Linked DNA regions of Homo sapiens. The gene in region 2 interacts genetically with the main gene of each other region. Each region holds a gene or a part of one and is shown on either strand. Other genes may lie near its edges.

Region 1 (3,500 bases), on a different chromosome or scaffold from region 2:
CTGACCTCAGGTGATGTGCCCACTTCGGCCTCCCAAACTGCTGGGATTATAGGTGTGAGCCACTACGCCCGGCCCAAGATTCTGTCTCTTCTGTGTTCAAATATTGTTTGTATTTGTCTTGGTGTTTTTTTGTTTGTTTGTTTTTGTTTTTGTTTTGAGACGGACTCTTGCTCTGTCGCCCAGGCTGGAGTGCAGTGGCGTGATCTCAGCTCACTTCAAGCTCCACCTCCTGGGTTCACGCCATTCTCTTGCCTCAGCCTCTCAAGTAGCTGGGACTACAGGCGCCCACCACCATGCCCGGCTAATTTTTTGTATTTTTATTAGAGACGGGGTTTCACTGAGTTAGCCAGGATGGTCTCGATCTCCTGACCTTGTGATCCGCCCGCCTTGGCCTCCCAAAGTGCTGGGATTATAGGCGTGAGCCACTGCACCTGGCCTGTCTTGGTGTTTCTTACTCAGACTTGCCAGACCTTGCTAGTCTTTCCAAAGAATCAACTCATGGCTTTATTTATCAAAATATTATTTTCAAGGTTTAATTTTCTAATAAGAAAATTTTTGCTTCTAATCTATTTCCTTTACTTTTATTGTTATTATTATTATTTTGAGACAGAGTTTTGCTCTTGTTGCCCAGGCTGGAGTGCAATGGCCTGATCGTGGCTCACTGCAACCTCCGCCTCCCAGGTTCAAGCGATTCTCCTGCCTCAGCCTCCCAAGTAGCAGGGATTACAGGCACGCGCCATCACACCTGGCTAATTTTTTGTATTTTTAGTAGATTTGGGGTTTCACCACGTTGGCCAGGCTGGTCTCTAACTCCTGATCTCATGTGATCTGCCTGCCTTGGCCTCCCAAAGTGCTGGGATTACAGGCATGAGCCACCGAGCCCGGCCTCTTTTATTATTTTTGAGTTGAATGCTTAGTTCAGTTCAGTTCAGTTATGTTACGTTATGTTATGTTATGTTAATGTTATGTTGTTATGTTAATGTTATGTTGTTATGTTATGTTATGTTACGTTATTTTTTGAGGTGGAGTCTTGCTCTGTTGCCCAGGCTGGAGTGCAGTGGTGCAATCTCAGCTCACTGTAGCTGCATACTCCTGGACTCAAGTGACCCACCTCAGCCTTCTGAGTAGCTGAGACTACAGATGCATTCCACCATGCCCAGCTAGTTTTTGTATTTTTTTTTTTGGTAGAGTCAGGGTTTCATCACGTTGCCCAGGCTGGTCTCACTCCTGAGCTCAAGCGATCCTCCCGCCTTGGCCTCCCAGTAGTTCACAGGTGTGAGCCACTGTGCCCAGCCAGTTGATATTTTCAATGTTGGTTTCAAATAAGAGCATTTGAAGTTACGATTTTTTTTCACTTCAGATACTCCAGTACACAATTTCAGTATGTGATCATTTTAATGCCAGTCTTCTAGTGGATAGACAGGATTGTTATTCTGAGAAACTGAGAGGTCTTGGGCCTTCATTACTTGAGTATTTCTAGTTTTTCTTGCCCTTTAACATTGGTCTTTCATCCCTTTGAGTTTAAAATGTCTAACGTGGTTGTTTTAACCTCTTCTGGAGTACTTTACTACTTTCATTTTCTTAAAACAATACTTTATACTCATCGCTTACAAAGTTTTAATTCTAGCCAACTTTCATTTTGCTAGTGGCATTCCTCAGAGCTTTTTAAAAATTTTAAAATATTATATAATTTATTTCTTTAGTGAAATAGAGACGAGGTCCTGCTGTGTTGCTTAGGCTGATCTCAAACTCCTTGCCTCATATGATCCGCCTTGGCCTTCCAAAGTATTGAGATTACAGGCATGAGCCACCGCGCCTGGCCTTCTCAGTGGTTTTTAAAGAGTATTTTTTTTTGAGACGGAGTCTTGTTCTTGTTGCCCAGGCTGGAGTGCAATGGTGCGATCTTGGCTCACCACAACCTCTGCCTCCTGGGTTCAAGCGATTCTCCTGCCTCAGCCTCCTGAGTAGCTGGGATTACAGGTATGCGCCACCACGCCCGGCTTATTTTGTATTTTTAGTAGAGATTGGGTTTCTCCATGTTGGTCAGGCTGGTCGCGAAATTCCGGCCTCAGGTGATCCACCTGCCTTGGCCTCCCAAAATGTTGGGATTACAGGCGTGAGCCACTGCGCCAGGCTTTGCATATTTCTAAGGTAGGTCTTCAACGCCACCAAATCTTTGAAAGTAAAATGGTAACTTTTTATGCGACCTGTACTTTTTCTCTATTTTGTTGGTTTTGTTTCGGCTAGCTAGATAGACGATCAGCTGAACACTCTCTTGAAGGAGTTCCAGCTAACAGAGGAGAACACTAAGCTCCGATATCTCACCTGTTCTCTTATTGAAGACATGGCCGCCGCGTATTTTCCAGACTGCATAGTCAGACCCTTTGGCTCCTCAGTCAACACTTTTGGGAAGTTAGGATGTGATTTGGACATGTTTTTGGATCTAGATGAAACCAGAAACCTCAGCGCTCACAAGGTAAGTCTATTTCTTTTGACCACTATAATCATGTAAAGTTAAGAAAGTATAAAAAGAAAAATCTTTGAACTTAATAAAATAGAACTGTTGATTTCTAAACTTATTAAACATTGTGGTTAAAGAATAAGGTGTATTTGTTATTGATTCTTTGGTGAAGTCTTTCTTTGTATTGTTCTACTATGTGATCATTTTTGTGAATATTCTGTAGATATGCAATCAAATAGTTAATTGTTTTCAAGTGTTCAGAAATTTTTCAGTTAAGTCAAAGTTACCTATTGTGTTATTCAAATTATGTATCTTAACTAATTTTTTCTTTTTAATCTTGTGATCTAGTTACTGAGATGTTTTTACATCTCATGATTCTTGGTTTTGTTAATTTCTCTTTAAAATTCTTTTGATTTTTGTTTTATCCAAAGGCTATATTAGCTACATATAGGTATACGATCATCATATTTCCTTATTAGATTGTTTTATTATTATATCCCTCATACATGCTTTATTCATCTCTATAAATACTTTTTTCTTAAGTTCTATTTTATTTGTTAATATGGCCGCTTGGTAGTTGTCTCACATGTCTTCTGTTTCTTTATTTTCAGCCTTTATATATGTTATTTTAGTTTGGGTGTATCTCTTATAAATAGCAGTATGCTTTTACTCCAGTCTATCAGTCTTTGAGTTCAATATGTTTATTGTTACTGCTGATAATTCTTGGACTAATTTCTCCTGTTTTATTTTTTATTTCCTATTTTCTGTGCTTTTGCTTTTCACTTTCTTTTATTTATTTATTTTTTTTGAGGCTGAGTCTCACTCTGTCGCCCAGCCTGGAGTGCAATGGTGCAATCTCGGCTCACTGCAACCTCCACCTCCCGGGTTCAAGTGATTTCTCCTGCCTCAGCCTCCTGAGTAGCTGGGATTACAGGCGCCTGCTACCATGCCCAGCTGATTTTTGTATTTTAGTAGAGACGGGGTTTTACCTCCTTGGTCAGGCTGGTTTTGAACTCCTGACCTCAGGTGATCCACACCC
Region 2 (3,500 bases):
CCATTTGAATGGGGGCTTGTAAAACTACATATAACCTTAGTAACTACTGGTACTTTTAAAATCCTTCTCTTACATAGTTCTTCATTTTGCAAGAGAAGCCAAGTAACCTTAAATTTTTATATTTTTTGTGTGTGTTTTATAGAGATGGTGTCTTACTATATTGGCCAGGCTGTTCTCGAACTACTGGCCTCAAGCAATCCTCCTGCCTCGGCCTTCCAAAGTGCTGGGATTACAGATGTGAGCCACCGCACCCAGCCAACTTTTATATTCTTTAAAAATGAATAACTCTGCCAGGTATGGGGGCTTACACCTGTGGTCCCAGCACTTTAGGAAGCCAAGGCAGGAGGATCACTTGAGTCCAGGAGTTTGAGAACAGCCTAGGCAACATAGTGAGACCCCATCTCTACAAAAAAAAATTTTTTTTTAATTTAACCAGGTGTAGTGGTGTGCACCTGTTGTTCCAGCTCCTCGGGAAGCTGAGGCCAGAGGACTGCTTGAGCCCAGAAGGTTAAGGCTGCAGTGAACCGTGATCACACCACTACACTCCAGTCTGGGTGACAGAGTGAGACCCTATCTCAAAAAAAGAAAATGAACTCCAAATTCTTCTAATTTTCAAAAAACAAGGGAAGGGGAATCACTTTCTTAAGATTTTGCTTATATTTGTATATTCTCATAAATAAGAAAGCAGATCAGAGAGTGGGTTGATAGAAAGCCAAAATCATTTGTTTTAAGTTGCTACAGTTCCATAATACAATATGAAAGGAAAAACATTTCATCCTGTGTACCTACACACATCTTAAACCCAGCCCAAGGATTAGCAGGGACCTTACCTCTGGTTGTTTGTTATCTGGTTGTTCTTCATAGGAACATTGAAGTCGACTCTAAAAAAGAAAGATGCAAGACCATGATCAACTTACTGTTCCATCAAAGACTAGGAGATGCATTTTTAATGAACCAGTTAAATAAGTCAGAAATTCAAATCTCATCTTAAAAATAATCAGTGGCATTAAAAGTCAAAATAGTGGTTAGTCATGGGGAGGATGGCGGGAGTGGTGACTGGGATAACGACACCAGAGGCTTTGGGGTTCTGGTAATGTTCTATCTCTTAACCTCAGTGACCATACAAATGTGCTCATTTTGTGGTAATTCTTTGAACTTGTGATTTGTGCCCTTTTAGGTATGTATTCATACTTTAAAAAGAATTTTAAAAAAAAAACCTAACTTAAATCACAGGAACTAGCCCTGAAGATCTGGGAAGCTAAAGCTAGTTCCACCTAAAAAGATATCTGTCTGGGCCTGGCACAATAGTATCCGGGTAGCAGCTAGAGGGGTGAGGAATAATAAGGAATGCATCTTGATCCTAATTCCCTTGATACTATTTCTGGGTCCTCGTGAAACTAACATGACTCGAGAAAAAAATTAAAATAAAAATAAAACACACTAAGAGAAAATCATTCTTTTTGGAGAAAGCCTGGGGCCTTAAGACTAGGGGTCCTTCAAGCAATACACACAACATAAGACAGCCTCTTTCAAAAAGCCTGAGAAGAGAGGGTGGGACATGTGCCCCAGCCCACCTGACAAACAGGCAAATTAGAAGGGAAGTAATCAAGACGACACAAGAAAATAATGTACTGCAGTATCTCTTACCCAACAGATTACTATGTTATCATTCTTAAGAACCAATTATTCTGAACTCCTTGGAACCTCAGCCTACTTCAATGTGAATGAAAACAATAATGTATGGCAGCTATTTTTAAGGTTTAAGAGTTGTGCCTGCCATGATTATTTTTAAGTGATTTTTTTCTCATCGGGATGACAGTATCTACCTCGTAGTTACTGAGAGAATTAGTAAGTCAGCAATTTGTAAAGTGCTTAGAAGTGTACCTGACACACAGTAAATGCCATAAAAGTGTTGTTGTTATATGTTTCTCCAAAATGTAATTCTGTGATTTGACAAGTAAATCAACCACTACTAAAAACAGCTAACATCACTTGCAAAGGGACTACAGTGAAGTATGACCTAATCAAGAAGACTGCTGCTATCCTTGATTATAAGCCTCCATCTTTTTCCTCTGCCTTTTTAAATACCCCTTCCTCTCTAAGGCTAAGGCAATTACAAACTCCTACAGACATACTGAGAAGACCACCAATTTCCTATATCCACTAGGCCTGAACTCCAATCTACCTCACTGAAGAACAGCCTTTCCAAAGGTAGGCTGAGGAAAAATAATTCTATAGTAAAACATGTTTTAAAGTCTTCAAAATTAAAGGCAGTAAGCCTCTGATGAAAGAAATACACTCTACTTTGTTTCAGGCCACTTGATTCTCTGTCTTCTTTAAATATCCTGAACAAGGAGCCTGCCAGCCTTAAAGTACATTCCAAAGAAGAGAGAATATCCCATTACCATGGGTCATTTTCCCCCATGCAACCTCCCAGAAGGCCTATGCTCAAAAGGACTAATGGCAAAAGGATGGGCACAAGCCACTTCTTGCAGTGCTACTCTCTACCCCCAACCCTTACAGGGAGGAATATCTTTGGACAGAGACACCTAAGAAACTGTCTCATCTATCCAAGCTGCCATGGTGTCAGCTTACTAATGAATTAGACTTGGTTGATACTCTCTCCTCAATGCCCTCTGGATTACCTCCCCTTATCTCCTACACTCACAACAGCTCTGCTTTTAGCTTCTCCTCAGAGGACTCCAACACAGGAACTGCTCTTGCCTACAGATTCTACTTGTTCCATTTTACATAAAATATGCACAATTTTCTTTTTTTTTTTTTTCGTTTCCTTATAACACCCCTGAGCTTTGCTTCAGGCACAAAGTCAGTTATTACTACATATCCATCAGAACGAAAAATAACTAAAATAGCTGGTAATGAAGCAGAGAAACTGATTACTCAAATACTGCTGGTAGAAATGTGAAATGCTGCAGCCACCTTGGAAAACAGTCTGGGGATACCTCAAAAGGACGTGGCCCAGCAATTCCACTCCTAGGTGTTTACCCATGAAAAATGACAGCGTATGTCCATACCAAGACTTGTATACAAATGTTCACAGCAGCTGTATTTGTAATAGCCCCAAATCAGAAACAACCCTAATATCCTTCAATGATAGTTAAACAAACTATAATACAACCACACCATGGAATACTACTCAGCAATACACAGGTATGAACTTTTGATACATGTGACAATGTGGATAAATTTTGAGGACATTATGCTAAGTGAAAAAAGTTAATCCCAAAAGGTTATATACCATGTGATTCAATCTGTATAGTATTTTTGAAGTGACAAAATTTTAGAAACAGTGGACAGATCAGTAGTTACCAGGAGTCAGGAAGGGGGGTGGTTATTATTATAAAGAGGTAGCATGAAGGAGATCTTGGTGGTGATCTAATAGTTCTGTATCTTGATTGTGGTGGCGGTTACACAAATCTACGCACGTAATAAAATGGCATAGAACCATACACACTTTATACCAATGTCAATTTCCTACT

Evidence for each region. Genes that interact genetically often act in the same process or in processes that back each other up.
Region 1: changes in PGK1 (region 2) and MTPAP together harm fitness more than expected from each alone (negative genetic interaction), as found in Homo sapiens cells (one large-scale study listed by BioGRID).

Annotation. Positions count from the first base shown.
Region 1 is NC_000010.11:30,335,779-30,339,278, reverse strand, and holds part of MTPAP (poly(A) RNA polymerase, mitochondrial precursor), read left to right. Parts: intron 1-2,251; coding exon 2,252-2,476; intron 2,477-3,500. UniProt on the Homo sapiens protein: Polymerase that creates the 3' poly(A) tail of mitochondrial transcripts. Can use all four nucleotides, but has higher activity with ATP and UTP (in vitro). Plays a role in replication-dependent histone mRNA degradation.
Region 2 is NC_000023.11:78,107,248-78,110,747, reverse strand, and holds part of PGK1 (phosphoglycerate kinase 1), read right to left. Parts: intron 882-3,500; coding exon 831-881; intron 1-830. UniProt on the Homo sapiens protein: Catalyzes one of the two ATP producing reactions in the glycolytic pathway via the reversible conversion of 1,3-diphosphoglycerate to 3-phosphoglycerate.